Regions from separate parts of the Homo sapiens genome. Here region 1 is linked to region 2. Evidence: fine-mapped expression QTL. Tissue or cell type: whole blood. Region 2 holds a variant in brackets; the other region holds the start of a gene. All regions are shown on one strand. Distances are between the middles of the regions.

Region 1 (8,099 bases), 44 kb after region 2:
AGGTGCAGAGAGGTTAAGTAATTGCCTGAGGTCACACAGCTGTCACCAGAAGAAGGCAGGCCTGGAACTCAGGTCTGTCCAGCCCCAAAGTCCTTGGGGAGGACTGAGGCCCATGGAAGCTGAGTTGCAGCTGCTCCTGGAAAAGCCAAGCCCCCAGCAATTCCTGTCTTGGGGAGACCACCAGTGGCTGCCTTTGAGAAAAGCAGGCTTTGCAGAGGGGTCAAGAAGCCAGAGGACAGGCCCAAGTCCCGGCTCAAGTGGGAGGAGGAGGATGGCTGGGAGCAGGAGCAGGTACCCAGGATGAGCTGGAGGCCGTGGGCTCACCAACTGCACCTCAAGTTTCCATGGCTCTGGCGAGGCTGGCAGGTGGCTGACACTCACTGAGGACTAATGACATACTGGGCACTCAGTCCTCAGGATGTGTTTAGGCAGGCAGTGTTATCACATCCATTTAACAGAGGAGACAATTGAGGCATAGCGATAGAAGTAATCTGCCCAGGGTGCCTGGGCAAGTAGCAGAGCTCAAATTCAAACTGGGCCGGGTGCGGTGGCTCACGCCTGTAATCCCAGCACTTTGGGAGGCCAAGGTGGGGGGATCACCTGAGGTCAGGAGTTCGAGACCAGCCTGGCCAACACGGTGAAAACCTGACTCTACTAAAAATACAGAAATTAGCCAGGCATGGTGGTGGGTGCCTGCAATCCCAGCTACTCAGGAGGCTGAGGCAGGAGAATCGCTTGAACCTGGGAGGCGGAGGTTGCAGTAAGCCGAGATGGTGCCACTGCACTCCAGCCTGGGCAACAGAGCGAGACTCCGTCTCAAAATAAATAAATAAATAAAAAATCAAACTGAAGATGAATGCCCCTGGCCTGTACTCCTAAGCCAGCATCCTCTCGCAAGTTCAGGGATACGATGCAGAATCAGGGACGCTGGCCTTCAGTGACACCCCTGTGGACACAGCTGAGGGATGCAAGCTGGGTTGGTACTGACAGGTGGCAGAGCTGGTTGCACCAGGCTGATGGTTAAGGCTGATGGTTACGGTCAGGGGAGGTTTGGAAGATGTGGGAGGGGCAAGATTCCTTCCAGCAAACCCTCAAAGCTCTGAGACGAGAAGGCAGGGGTGTGACATGGAGTGACAGATAGATGAAGGGGGATGCACAGGGGTAGGACAAAGAGCGGGTTGGGGGTTGGGCACAGTGGCTCACGCCTGTAATCCCAGCACTTTGGGAGGCCAAGGCGGGTGGATCACCTGAGGTCAGGAGTTCGAGACCAGCCTGGGCAACACTGTGAGTCTCTATCTCTACGAAAAAATTTAAAAAATAGCTGGGTGTGGTGGCACACGCTGTGGTTCCAGTTATTCGGGAGGCTGAGGTGGGAGGATCATTTGAGTGAGGGAGGCAGAGGTTGTAGTGAGCTGAGATTGCACCACTGCACTCCAGCCTGGTGGACGGAGCGAGACCCTGTCTCAAAAAAATAAAAACAGGACGGGCACAGTGGCTCACGCCTGTAATCCCAGCACTTTGGGAGGCTGAGGCGGGCAGATCACCTGCGGTCAGGAGTTCAAGACCAGCCTGGCCAACATGGCAAAACTCTGTCTCTACTAAAAATACAAAAATTAGCTGGGCATGGTGGTGGGCACCTGTAGTGCCAGCTACTCGTGAGGCTGAGGCAGGAGAATCACTTGAACCCAGGAGGCAGAGGTTGCCGTGAACCAAGATGGCGCCATTGCACTTCAGCCTGAGTGACAAGAGTGAAACTCTCAAAAAAAAAAAAAAAAAAAAAAATCATGGGTGGGGGTTTGTCTGCTGCTCCAAGGGACTCTAGGACACCGTAAGGGTGTTTTCACCTCTTGTGAAAGAACAGTTTCTCTTTTATGTAATGTTTGTTGCAATACCGGGTGGGAGGGGGTGGCACTGGGAATGTTTTGTTATAGTTGAGACTGTTACAAAAGAGCTTTTCCCCAGTAGCACCCCATAAAACCTCTTACTGCTCGGTTACCAGGGTGTGCTGGGTGTCTTTTGGGGAGGAGGAACCACACAAAGGGAAAGGATGGGAATTGGGGGGAAATTAAATTAAAAATGACTGTAGTTGAGACACATTGACACTAACAGGCTGCATTTCCGGGGTCTGGCCGTGTTTGCACCAACTGTCTGGGGTGTGGGGCGAGGCGTGCACAGGATTAAAGGAGATGGTGTCCTAGGGCTCTGGGCTGCAGCCTGGGGAGGTACACACAGGTCAGCCTTTGCCTCCCCAGGGTAAGTTTCCGGTGAAGAACATTCTTTACAAGTAAGAGGATCCTCTGAGCCTACTGGCCGAGGGGCCCAGCTTGGGGCTGAGGCTGGCCTGGGGCTGAGGCTGGCCTCTACTTACCGGCTAGGTCTTGAGCAAACGAACTGGCTTCCCTGGGCCTCCTTTTCCCTGTCCTTAAAATGGTGCAGGTGAGGACAATAGGAGCCCCAAGGGGTGCTGTGAGGGTGGCCAGTACGTGCCCTGCTAAGGGCTCCATAAAGCCTAATTTGTGGTCATGAGAGGGGGTGCAGCAGGACAGGGTGGGGGCAGCTCTTGAAAGCCCCATAAACTAAGAGAATAGAAAGGAAGGCACCCTGTCTCCACAGTGGAGGCCACCCCTTTGGCCAGAGGGAGGGTTGGCTGCTGCCCGGCCAAGGAGGGGCAGAGAGAATCTGGCAGAATTCACTGAGCCCTCGTGCTGGCAGCCCTGGAATGGGACCCTCCTGGGCCGTCCCTGGCCTGATGAACTGGCCCTGAGGCTACCTACCCCACAGCTTGGCTCGGATCCCGGCCACCCAGCTTCCAAGAAAGCCTGGAACCAGGAAAGGAGCGCCGCTGGCGTGGAAAGACACACTTGCATCCTAAAACACTTGGCCTCTGGTTGTGTTTCAGGAACTGGGAGGTGAGACCCTTTCTGGTGACTGACAGTTTTGTGCCTCTGGGCGCAGAGCCCTGTGGCTGGCCCTGGTATCCCCCCCTCCCCCCTCTCCCCGCTCTCCCTGGCCAATGCCAGCAACAACCCAGAGGGTAGCCCCACCACTTGCCAGGTTCAACGCAGTGTCCCCCGCAGCAGCCACGTGAGGTTCCTCGGATGGGGAGCTGTCCCTCCCCCCTGCCCCGCCCCTGGCCCCAGCCACACAGCGCCCACCCTCCTTGTTTAAGGGCCAGGAGGCCAGACTGCTGGGGCAAAGCTGTCACAGCAGCGAGGGAGAGAGCGCTGTCCCCCTCCCCTTCAAAAGCCACCTTGGCAAGGCATTAGCTAAACATCTTCTCGGTCCCAGAAGGCTTCCCCTGTGAAGTCTGCAGCGTTCAAACGACAACCAGCAAATCCCCAGAGACAGGTCCCTGGGAATTAGCTGCGCCGGGCGGGATGAAAGCCGCTCTGATGTTCTGGAGCGAGAGAGTAGAGAGAAGGAGGAAGACAGACACTACCTGCCAGTCGCAGGGTCCCGGGCAGCAGCAGCACGCCAAGGAGGAGCCAGGGGGCTGCGGGGAGCCCAGGAGGGCGTGGGAGGCCTGGCAGGGCCCGCCACCTCACAGGCTGGTTCTCCATCTGGGGGCCTGCTTGTCTGCGGCGACTCTTTAGTTCACAGGAGGGGACGGCCGGCGCTGACAGCTTCCCCTTTGCTTTCCCCACGAAGCTCCTCCCTGGCAGCCCCTGACCTTCCGCTCAGAAGCAAAGCTGGAACAGCCCAGCAGGGTGGCCGCCAGATGAGGAACCTGGCACTGAGACTGGTCCAGGCCACACAACCAGAAGAAGAGCTGGAGACGGGACCCAAGCCTCCCCACTCCAACCCCTGGTGGGCTTCACCCTGTCTCGGCCCCTTTCCAGCAGGGGCCCCGTCCAGGAGACACTGGTAACTGTGCAGAGGGATCATGGGATTTCCATGAGTGACTTCGGGCCTTGGTTTAGCCTCTCACTTCTGAAACACTTTTAAAACGACCACAAGCATGTTCACACAAACTTCTCTAAAATATTCTGAGAATCCCTTAATAATGTGTTTACCAAAGGTAGGTTTTTTGGTGAGGGGTGGTAGGGAGGCTGGGGTGAAGGGCAGGAGCCTCATGTTCCCAGCCCTAGAGAGGGCCAAACACCCAGGGCAGGTGAAAGGCAGGCTGCCCATCATTCACCCAGCGAGAACCTCTGTGGGTCCCCTGCAGAGGCCCAGGAGACGCCTCCTCTCTGGTCCATCTCTAACGTCAGCTCCTCCCTGTGGCTGCCCTAAAGCTTAGCTCACTCGGCCTCCCAACTGTGAGACCCTCGAACTGCTTCCCCATTGGCTGCAGGTCACAGCCCCTGCTCTCACTTCTAGCAGCATCAGCCGGGGACAGGAATTGTTTGCTGCCGGGACCCCCTTCCCCAGCAGACTGGGAGCCCCTCACCCTTGGCACCCACACATCTGCCTGCGTGTCTGGAGTGGCAGAGGAAAGGGGCTGGGGTGTGGTGATGGCTGGTGGAGCTGGAGGCACCTGGTACATGGAAGACGCAGGCGGGAAGGTGGCTGAGTTTCAGCGCATGCTGAGCGCTTACCTCCCTTCTCTGCAGGTGTCCCTTCACTCACCAGATAAATGTGATGATCCCAGTTGTACAAAAGAGAAGACCTCGGCCCCAGGAGGCAAAACAACATGCCTAGGATCAGGGCAGGTCTGTGGGGCGGGCATTTGAACTGCCAGTGGTATGATGTCCGAGCCTTCTCCCACCCTGCTACTGCCTGCTCAGGTGTGTCCAGCTGCAGCCCCCGGTGACGGCATCATGAGATCCATTTCAGTTCTTTGCACACATGCTTTTCCCTGGGCTGCTCCAAACATGAACAGTGAAAGCCTAAAGACGTTTCCACCAATGCCACGAGCACTGGGAGGCTGGCAAGAGCAGGGGCCGCCCACCAGGGGAGGAAGACATATGAACAGGAGAAGTTTCCTACCGCGCAGGGGGCAGGCGGGGACCCCAGTGTTATTGACTGTTGATCCATCACAGTGATACATGCTCACATATGTCACAGTGAGATGCAGACCCGCTGCTTCACGCTATTCCTGGCTCCTGGGAGTAGCAGGTTGTCTAAGCACCTTGATGCCATGGTGATAGACCTCGTGTCAATGCCTCAGGGTACACGGGGAGCATTGGAAAAGCATCGGTCTGTGCCTCTACAAGTCTCATTACGACTTGGCACTGGGAGGCAGCTGAATGCCAAACTGCCTCGGAACAAGGGAGCCTGCTCTTCCAGCCCTGGTGCCGCCTCCGCTCCTGCCCCTGTGCCAGCTCACTGACCCTACCTCTCAGCCTGTCACGGTGCCCCCCACACCCCAACTCTGTACCTCGGACTCCCGGGAGTTCTGCCGCCTCTGAGTCTGGGTCTAGCCTGCTGCACACCTGGTTTCCACGCTTGCCTGCCTGAGCTGCCTGTCTTCCTCCCCTCTCCTTCTTGAGCCTGGCCCAGGGGGTGCAGGAATGGACGGATGGGTGAGCATAAGGCAGGGAGAAGCCTTCCTCCAGGCTTGATATGAAGGCAGGTGCCCAACACCACGCTGGTGCACAAGAGGCCTCAAGGGAAGGGGTAGCCTCTGGGAGGCAGGGTGGGAGGAGGCGTGCATACTCCCCAGGCAGGCCCTGGGCTGTGGAGCGCAGACATGACTGGACAAGAAGCAGCTGAGGGTCCCAGCTCATTGCCCAGTTTCTGAGACGCTCTGCAGCCACGCAGCCTCCTGGGGAGAGGCAGGGACGCACCTTGGCAAGGAGCCCAGCAGCCCTGGCTGCGCTGTCGGGGCCTCGTGTCTGGCCCTGATCCTCCTCGGGAGCCAGGGGGATAGAAATAAAACCGCAGCGCATCCAGGAGCCTCATTTCTACCAAAACTTTCTAGCACCTCTCATGTGCTTCCTCTCCTGTGCCCTCAGCCAGAGCTGTGAATAAACAGTAAAGGCCCCAAAGGCTGAAGGCGGAGCAGAGGAATGAGGAGGCTCTGTGGGTGTCCCAGGGGCAGCTTCAGTGGCACAGCCTTCGAGCTAGGCCTTGGCAGCTGAATTTGCAGGTGAGGTCCCTGGGGACCACACGTCTCAGCCACTGGCTTTTGCCCAGACCTCCGTCCATTCCCCGTTTATCCGTGCATCTATGCCTCACAGTATACTGAACACCTGCCCTGCCCTGGGCCCTGGCCTCACGGAGGCTGTAGAAGTGAAAGAGCCTAGCCTCCCTGGGAAGCCTAGGGGCACGGCAACCTCAGCAGAGTGAAGCAATAATAGAGCAGTTCCGGGAAGCTTCCAAGCGCCTGACACTGCTCCAGGGGACCTGCTCTCCTTGCCAGTTTAATCCTCACTGCAGCCCTATGGGGCAGGCACTCTAATCACCTCCATTGTACAGATGAGGAAACTGAGGAACAGGGAGGTTAAAGTAATTTCTGAGTGGCAGCCCTGAAGGAGGTGGAAGCTGGGTGGGGAAATGGGGGAGCCCAGGTGTCCCCTGCAGTCCCCAGGGGCCTCCTCGACACCAAGACTAAGGCTTTCCAAATGAGACCACAATTACTGGCCTCTGTTTTCTTTTTCTTTTCTTTCTTTTTTTTTTTTTTTTGAGACAGAATTTTTCTCTTGTTGCCCAGGCTGGAGTGCAATGGCGCGATCTCGGCTCACCGTAAACTCTGCCTCCCGGGTTCAAGTGATTCTCCTGCCTCAGCCTCCCGAGTAGCTGGGATTACAGGCATGTGCCACCACGCCCGGCTAATTTTGTATTTTTAGTAGAGATGGCATTTCTTCATGTTGGTCAGGCTGGTCTCGAACTCCCAACCTCAGGTGATCCGCCCACCTCAGCCTCCCAAAGTGCTGCGATTATAGGTGTGAGCCACTTTGCCCAGCTGGTCTCTGTTTTCAGTTTAGTTCCACAAACACTTATTATGTGCCTACTGCGTGCCAGGCATTGGGCAGACAAAACATAAGTCATGGTTTTGCCCTCAAGGCGCTCCCTGTCCAGGGAGAAAAACAGATCCCCTACCCACGACCACCTCCAAGATTTCCTTTTCTTCTTCTTTTTTTTTTTTTTTTTTTTTGAGACAGGCTCAAAAAAGACTCCACTAGGCTGGAGTGCAGTGGCATGATCTCAGCTCACTGAAATCTCTGCCTTGCGGGTTCAAGTGATTCTCCCGCCTCAGCCTTCCGAGTAGTTGGGATTACAGGCGCCTGCCACCACACCTGGCTAATTTTTGTATTTTTAGTAGAGATAGGGTTTTACCATGTTGGCCAGGCTGGTCTCGAACTCCTGACCTCAGGTGATCTGCCCGCCTTGGCCTCCCGAAGTGCTGGGACTACAGGCGTGAGCCACCGCACCCGGCCTCAATCCAGGATTTTCAAATGCCCCAGCCAGCAAGTGGCAGCTGAGAGGCCTCCAGCCGGGACACAGTGAGGTCCTGAGCTCTTCATGGTTCCTTTCTGCACAGGAAGCAGAAGTGCCGTGGGAAGGAGATCCCTCTGCTCCCCGCTGCGGCTGCGAAAATCACTTCCTTCCTCCCCAAAGACTCCAGCACCAAGAGGAGCTGAGCCGACCAGCAGGAGGGACCCCTCAGAATGACCCTCTGAGCTGGCTTCACTGAGGCAAAAAGGGTTCCAGGGTACTCAGGGGCCGATCCACCCTCTCTCTCAAACACCCTCACTATCAAAAAGGGCAGCCTCCATCCTAGGAGCAGCCGGGTTTACCTCTGGGGCCGTCTTGTGCCTCGCAGTGGCCCTGCAGCTGGGTGGTGCTGACCCCACCAGAGGCAGGCAGACCCACCTGGAGGCCATCTGCCCGCAGGCTGCCCGGGCTGGAAGCCTGGCCTGGCTTGTCTCCAGAATCCCCTCTCAGTTCCAGCTGCTTGTATTTTTGGCTCTTAAGCATTTGTTTGATGCCAGACACAGTTCTAAAGGCTTTTCTTGTACTTCAGCCCTCATAGAAACCTTGTATGGGAGGTGTTATGACTGCTCCTGCTTCGCAGATGAGGAAACTGGAGTTCAGAGAACACAAGCCACTTGCCCAAGGCCACACAGCGAAGACGCAGTGGAACAAGGGCTCCAGCTCCCGGGACCTGGCTTTAACCACTGCGCTCTCCTGCAATTCACCTGGTCCTTTAATCA
Region 2 (8,099 bases):
TCCTTGTCTGTCCCCCAGACCTCCCACGCCAGCCCCTGCTCCCACCCTGCCTGGCTGCCTCGTGCCTCTGGCCCAGCTGGGTAGGTAGGGATTTGCATAGCTGCTCCCCAGCTCCTCCATACCTCGGCTCCCCACACAGCACTGCTAGGCGCCCCTGCAGGGTCCTCCCTCAGCTCAGAGGCTGCCCTACTGGCTGAGGTGCAGGCTGGTGCCAAGAGAGCATGCTGCTCTGTCAGCATGAGGCAGTGAGCAGGGCTCTGGGCAAGGGTGGCATCCAGGAAAGCCCTTGAAGACTGAGGGGCGCTTTGCTGGTTGGGCCAAGGGAGGAAGGGCCTGCCTGGCAGAAGGAACAGCCTGGGCAAAGGCCCCAAGATGGGAAAGCCTTGGTGGTTGGGGCATAGAATGGGGGGGCAGTGGGGCCGGCCAAGACAGGAAGGGCCTTGAATGTGAGGGTGAAATGATGGGGTGTCCCTGGGGGCCTTACTCCCAACTCAGATCAAGTCCTTTGGTGGCAGGGGCTGCCCCGGTCCTCTGACCCAGGGCAAGCTCTATGAGCGGTGGAGCCCATCCTAGAGATTTTCATAGACCAGGTTAAGTTCGCCATCATCTTCGAATCTATGCGGTCTCTCCTGGATAGAAAAGAAGAAAGGGAGGGAAGGAGAGAAAGAGAGAGAATGACCATTAAGAATGAACTTGCACTAATTTAGTTTTAGCCAGAGGGCAACAGATCACTTCCTGTGTAGCTTTGATGGGGGGCCTGCCCTCTGTCTCCAAGCCCACCTCCCCAGCCTCTTCCCCCACCATGCTGCCCCCACCCCTGCCCATTGCCCTCCAGCCACATGGGCCTGCCCTTCCAGCCTCAGAGCTTCCCCCACAGCTCTGCCCTCTGCCTTCTGCCCTATGTGTGGGATGCGCCTCCTCCCACAGACACACCTGTTCCATGACTGCCCCCTACTCACTCTGCCTGCGGGCTCATCATAGGGTCCCAGGGACCCCCTCCCTCCCTCCCCACCCTGGCTGGTCCCTCCCAGAAGAACACCCCTCACAACAGGGCTACAAATGCCTCTGTGTGTCCATGGGGTCAGCGACCTATTCCTGCAGACTATGGCTCCCAGAGGGTAGGGACATGCCTAGTTCTCCTGTCCAGCACCCCAGGGCCTGGCACAGGGTGGGCACTGCCGGAGATGTCCCTGCTTTCACTCAGGGTCTAGTTGAGGGCTGAGTATAGAAAGGGCTTTGAGAACAGGCGATTTAACAAATAGTGCCAGCCCGAGCCAGAGAAGGCCAAGTGCCAGGCGCCCGCACTCCCTGACAGATGTTCCAAGAGGCCTGTGGGCTCCTGTTCTGGCTGAACAACGCCTCACGCTTGACGGTGCTGGAAGCTCTGGTGCAGATGTTATTCAGCTTGGAACACATTTGAATTCAGAGGCAGTTGGTATTGCAGGAAAACACTGCTCATCCACTTTACAGATGAGCAAACAGGTTTAAGAGAGAAAGTATGGGCCGGGCGCGGTGCCTCACACCTTTAATCCCAGCACTTTGGGAGGCTGAGGTGGGTGAATCATGAGGTCAGGAGTTCGAGACCAGCCTGGCCAACATGGTGAAAACCTGTCTGTACTAAAAACACAAAAAATTAGCTGGGCACAGGGGCGGGCGCCTGTAATCCCAGCTACTCGGGAGGCTGAGGCAGGAGAATTGCTTGAACCTGAGAAGTGGAGGTTGCAGTGAGCTGAGATCGCGCCACTGCACTCTGGCCTGGGTGATGGAGCAAGACTCTGTCTCAAAACAAAAACAAAAACAAACAAACACACACACACACACACACACACACACACAAAACAAAAACAAAAAAAAAGAGAGAAAGTATGATTGGGTAATATGCCTGAGGCCCTATCATGACAATCACAGAACCCTGACCAGGCCAGCCCAGCTTCTACCAGCTCACACTCTAGCTCCAGACTTTAGCCAACACCAACCTGGGGGCAGCTGGAAGCCTAACACCCCTGTCTGACTGACCATGTGGACACTGTGCCCAGTGATAGTTACAGTGGCTCATAGTGCATGGGCACAGCTGGGTCCCAGGCAGCTCTCTCAGTACATTCTACCCTCACTGAACATCTATGAGGTGGGTACTGTTAGGTTGCTCAATCTGCACACAAGGAGATTCAGACACAGAGAAGTCAGACACCTCGGCCAGGGCTGCACAGTGGCTAAGGGACAGAGCAGGAACTCAAACGCACCAGTCCTCTTAACCAGCAGGCCAGCTGCCACCAGGAGATGGCTGGGATTCCACAGCAGGTGGCTCACTTCCATGTCCCATTTGCCCCCCCACTTCACCAGTGATGGGAGGGTCAGATGGAGCAAGAAGCCAGGCTTGGTGCCCCAGCGCCTGTGTACCTGGGAGAGGGGGCTCTGCTTGGCGGTGGGTGAGCTGCCATCCTCATTCTCGATGCAGGCATAGACCTCGGTCTCGCGGCGCTGCAGAGCCTACAGGAAACGGGGTGCCAGGATCAGGGGCAAGTGTGTAGAGGGGCAGTCCCTGGCCCCAGCAGCCAGCCCCCTGCCTGTTACACACCCCACCGTGGGAGCCCAGGGGAGGGTGAAGCCCAGCCACACCTTTGCACCTGCCACCCCCTTTCCCAGAGTCACCTTTCCCCTTCCCTGCCTGTAAAGGGCTGACCCCTCTCTGTTCTCGGCCACCTCCCTAACCTCCCTTAAGGACCTCCAGTAGAGCCTTGTATTCCACCTGGAGGGTTCTATCCAGGCTTCCACCTGGCTGGCAAGAGAAAGGGCCAGGCCTCCTCCTGCTGTCCCTGCCTGTCCCTAGGCTCTTAAGGGCTTGGCAGCCAGCAGCCCCCTGCATGATACCTGTGGCCACTGCTCCAATAGGATGCCCCCATGACCTCTGCCTTCACCCCCCTGTTCAAAGCCCCGGCCCCTGTGAGGGTCCTCCCACCCACCCATACCCTCTAGCTCTCCCCAACCCCCACCCCAGCCTGTATTCAAGGATAACCCAGGCACCCACTGGGGTCACACTCCCTGGTCATCGAGCCTGTGCCCTGCTGGGGGATTCCAGAGTCCAATCCTGGTTCTCAGCACACCCCTCATCCCCCTTGCCTGTCACTTTCCTTTCATTCCCCTCAGCCACCCCTCCTGGGCCACCTGGGCTGCTGTCATCACCCATATGCGCCTCCCTGGAGGTCTCAAGCTCCTGCCACCCACTCTCTGACCACGGTCCCCCCATAGCCCAAGCCTCCTCCCAGGAAGCCCGAGTCAGTATTGAGCTCAGCTGGGCTTGGAGGCCCTGTCCCTGGCCTCA[C/T]GGCTCCTGCACTGGGTCATGTCGGAGTCCTGCTCCCACCAGCATCTCACCAGATGGGAACCCCTTGAGGGCAGGGACCATGCCTAGTCTATCTCTGGGTTTCTGATTCTACAGCTGTGCTTGGCACAAAGGGAGCAGCACCAAATGAGCTATGGTAAGGGGGCTTCCCCGTCACTCGGGTGTGTCCTAGGCCCACTCACTCTTGGCCCAGCTAAGAAAGGCCTAGCCAGAGACCTCAGGATGGTAGAAAGAACCGGGGCTTTAAAGTCAGACAAGAGTAGGTTCGAATCTCGGCTCTGACTGCGCCAGCCAAAGGCAACCCCTTAACCGCTCCATGCCTCAGTTTCCACGTCTGTAAAATGGGAATAATCACATCTATTTTGCAGGTTCAATGCATGATTAAATGAGATACTGTGCACAAAGGGCCACACACACAGTCAGGGAAGTAGTAGGTGCTTAATAAACTGCTGTTGAATGGTCAAGAGAAGCATGAGGCCTGCCCACCTCCCCTCTCTGGGATCACAGACCAGACCCTCCCTCAGAACCTGTTGGACTCCGGAGCAGAGCCCACCAACAGCCTAAGCAAGAGCAGAAGCCTTTCCTTCCTGAGTGTACGTGTCATATGGATGCCGGCTGGTTGCCAAGGAGGCGGTTTCCCTGGCAACAGGCAAGCAGGGGTTGCTGAGGCAGGCTGGAGAGACAGGTGGTGCTCAGAGGCAGGAGGAGGGCGGGAGGCGGGAGGGAAGGAGGGAGGGAGGCAGGCGCCAAGAGGCAGCTGGGCATGAAAATCCAAGTAATAAACCATTTGGCACTTGGGAGACCCTCACTTCAAGGGCATCAGACATGGGGATGGTGGGGCGGCCCTGAGGACGAGTTCAAGGGGTCTCTGAGCCAGAAACAGGCTGGGTCTGGGGAGAGGGGCTTCCAACCTGCTTCCTTGTAGGAAAGGGACCAGGGCTGCCCCAGGAAGAAGCCTCATTTGGAATGGAGGGAAACTTCCAAGTCCTGCCCTGCCTTGTGCGGCCTTCGTGCCTGTCCGGAGCACCAGCCACCCCAGCTGGTCTGGCACCCAGGATGGGAATGTTCCTCTGTGGTCCTGTGCCCCCAACCCTCCACCCACCCAGGCCCAGACCCCTTCTAAGTCTCACAGATCTGACAGTCTCTCTGAGCTGGATGATTCTGGTCACAGAGAAAAGGGAGGGGAGCAGTCTCCTTGCCCATGTCTCGGCAGGGGAGTAGATCTGGGGTTCCCTCTCCCTCCTGTCCAGCTCAGCCGGGCTGCCCAGAACACATGAGCCCAGAGAGGGCAGGTGATGCAGGGCCAGAGAAGACTAGCCTGCCCTGGGATGCTGCAGGCCCCCAACCCATACAGTGGGGGAGTCGGGGAATAGGCGAGTGGGCGGTGGTGCAGTGGGCAGGGCAGGAGCAGCTGCGGGGCTGAGAACAGGGGAGGCTGCGGAGGTGGCCACCAATTAGCAGCTGCTGAGTGAGGCCTTGACAAGTCCTGACCCGCTGGGTGCATTTATATGCAGGGTATGACCTGCATCACCAGGCTGTGAAATGCAGGGTGCAGCCTTGGCAACAGGACACCCTTTGAGCTCCTGAACCATCCCCTCCTGGCCCTCCCTTAGGTATGCCTGCTGGGAGATTGCACAGGCCTTGGAATGGGCCACTTGTGGGGCTGGGGCTGGGCTGGGCTGGGGGTTGGGGGCTGGGGTCTGGGAGGGTGCTGGGCTGTGGCTGGGCTGGGTGTTGGGGGCTGGGGGGCTGGGCTGGGCTGGGCTGGGGGCTGGGCTGGGCTGCGGCTGTTTGTCTGGGATCCAGGCCCCCCAGGCCCTTTGCCTCCTGCTGCCCAGTGGGCAATGGTGCTGACCCCAGTGATCATCCAACTGGCAGAGGTGTGAAGTCAATGCTGAGGCCTTCTCCAGGCAGGCTGAGGCCAGAGCTGAAGTTAGTGTCCCTGGGCCTGGACCTAGTCTGAGAGTCCTGGGCATTGGGGGTGATGGGTGAGATCTGGGGGTGTTGTTCGGGAAGGAACACACTCCGTGGAGAAGCAATTCAGCTCTAGACCAGGCAGTGGAAATGGGGAGCCCCTGAAGGCTTTCCTCACCATGCATCAGAGTCGTGTGTTAGAAAGGTCCCTCCGGCAGCAGCTCAGAGCAGGAACGGGAGCAGGAGGGCCTGGAGGCTGAGAGTAAGATCGAGGATGCTGGGCCAGGCTGGGCTGGGACAGAGCCGCCGGGTGGGTGGGGGTTCTGAGTACTGCTGCTGAATGAGGACGCAGATCACATCCTGACGCCTCACATTTGCTACTGAGTGTCCCCACTTCCCTGTGCTGGGCCCCGTGGAAACCCGGACACCCTGGGAGGTAAGAACAGGCTTCTGCCCATCATATAGTAGGTGACCCCTGAGCACTTACTGTGTGCTGGGTGCCAGGAGGCTCTAGATTGACAATAATCACAGTAAAAGGTAGCCATGAAGGCACTGGAGAGACTCAAAGAAGGAAGATAGGGAGGTTGGGATGGGACAGGAAAGGGAAGAGGGGGCAATTTTGAAAGGGAAGTCAGGAAAATGCTGCACTGAAAGGTCCCATGAGGGTAGAGAGCTGAAAGAATGAGGGAGCGGGCTGGGTGTGGTGGCTCACCCCTGTAATCCCAGCACTTTGGGAGGCTGAGGAGGGCAGGTCACCTGAGGTCAGGAGTTCAAGACCAGCCCAGCCAACATGGCAAAACCCCGTCTTTACTAAAAATACAAAAATTAGCCGGGCGTGGTGACGGGTGCCTGTAGTCCCAGATACTCAGGAGGCTGAGGCAGGAGAATCACTTGAACCCGGGAGGTAGAGGTTGCAGTGAGCCAAGATTGTGCCACTGCACTCAAGCCTGGGCAACAGAGTGAGACTCCGTCTCAAAAAAAAAAAAAAAAAAAAGAGGGAGCAGCCGTGGCCAGTGTCAGGAAGGCCACCCTGGGGCGGAGGGAATAGCCAGCACAGAGGCCCAGGGCGCTGACCTTGACCCTTGGTGAGAGGGGAACCTCTGCAGGACCGTGGCGGTCGTAAGAACTGCTTCACAGACCTCCACTTCAAGGGATCGGAACTGACCAAGGGCTCAAAACCGCCCAGCTGCTGGGCCTTGAAACCTGTTACCACATTTGCATGGAGGCCACATGCCTCTGACCTGGGCACTCCTCACACCCCTAGGCAGTGTGACGGTTTAGGGGCTTCCTTCCCTTGGGATCAGACCTGCTCCGCGGAGGGGCTGCTCTCCCAGTCTTCCCCAGCCCCTTCCTCATCTTCTCTCCCAGAGGGTTTCTCTAATAAACCCCTTGCTCACCTAACCCCATCTTGGTGTCTCTGTCTCAGAGGGCTCTGAGCAGAGGGCCATGATCTGTCGATGGCTTACCAGGATCATTGGCTACTGCCAGGTGAAAAATGAACAGGGGTCTTGGGGGTGGGGGTAGGGGGACATGGGGAGGGGAAAGGATAAAAATAGACCAGCTGCTTAGAGACCAACTGCAGGACTCCAGGCAAGAAACGGGAGTGGCTCCCACCAGTGTTAGCGCTGGGGCAGTGAGAAGGGCTGGATTCTGGATACGTTTTGAAGCAAGATTTGTTGATAGATCAGATATGGGCAGTGATTGAAACACAGATGGAGAGAACAACTTCAACATTTCCAGCCTGAGCAACGGGAAGGATGGAGCAGCGATGAGGAGACGTGGGTAAGAGGCACTCAGAGGGGTAAAAAGTTGGAGTTCGAGGCTGGGCGCAGTGGCTCACATCTGCAATCCTAGCACTTTGGGAGGCTGAGGCAGGCGGATCATTTGAGGTCAGGAGTTCGAGACCAGCCTGGCCAACATGTTGAAACCCCATCTCTACTAAAAATACAAAAACTAGCCGGGTGTGGTAGTGCGCACCTGTAATCCCAGCTACTCAGGAGGCTGAGGCAAGAGAATCACTTGAACCTGGGAGGCGGAGGTTGCAGTGAGCCGAGATCACGCCACTGCACTCCAGCCTGGGTGACAAGAGCGAGACTCTGTCTCAAAAAAAAAAAAAAAAAAAAAAAATCGGAGTTTGGTTTGAGAGAGATGTTGTTTAGACATTCAAGTGGGGTTGACTCTGGTGTTCAGAGGAGATGTCTGGGCTGGAAATATAAACTTGGGAGTTGTCAGGATATAGATGGTCTTCAGAACCTTGTGGCTAAATGACATCACCCAGTGAAGGGAATGAAGAAGAAAAAGGGTCCCAGGATGGGCTCCAACATTTACTCCAATCTTTACAGTTCAGGGTTCCACTGGTTCTGGAAGAGGAACAAGTGAAAGGGGCTGAGGAGGTGTGATGGTGAGGCAGGGGAGGATCAGGAGAGTGTGGAATGTTCTGGAAGCAAGTGAAGAAAGTGTGTTTGAGGAGGAGGGAGAGCTCAAGGGTGTCAGATGCCGTTGATTCATCAAGGAAGGTGAGGACCGAGAACTGCCCATTGGTTTAACAATGTGGAGTCAATGGTGACCCTGAGAAGGAAGGTTCTGGCGAAGAGGAGGGTTGCAAGCCTGTAGAGAGAAACAGAAAGGAGAGGGAGAGGGGCTGAAGGTGAGAGGGCTCTGTCAACGCTGGAGGAACTCTGTTCTAAGGTGCTGTGGAGAAACGGCAGGGAGCTGGAGGGGGATGCGGGCTCAAGGAATTTCAGATGGAAGAAATCACAGCATGTTTGCAAGCTGTAAACCAATATTGTACTGTTAACCCTGTTTTGCAGATTATGGAACTAAGACTCAGAAAGTTTAAGTAGCAGAC

The links. PIP is the estimated chance that this variant, and not a neighbour inherited with it, causes the effect.
Region 1: it holds the start of NFAM1, and the variant in region 2 is fine-mapped to the expression of NFAM1 in whole blood (TOPMed, PIP above 0.99).

The regions. Positions count from the first base shown.
Region 1 is chr22:42,428,798-42,436,896 of GRCh38, forward strand. It overlaps NFAM1 (NFAT activating protein with ITAM motif 1), which reads right to left and starts at 3,606. Exons shown (of 6, transcript NM_145912.8): 1 at 3,440-3,606. The coding sequence starts at 3,560.
Region 2 is chr22:42,384,592-42,392,690 of GRCh38, forward strand. NFAM1 (NFAT activating protein with ITAM motif 1) reads right to left here. Exons shown (of 6, transcript NM_145912.8): 5 at 2,398-2,487; 6 at 1-629. The coding sequence ends at 570. Among named protein-coding and RNA genes, the nearest start is that of LINC01315, 19 kb to the left of the region's middle. The variant C/T (reference allele first, on the strand shown) is at 3,320.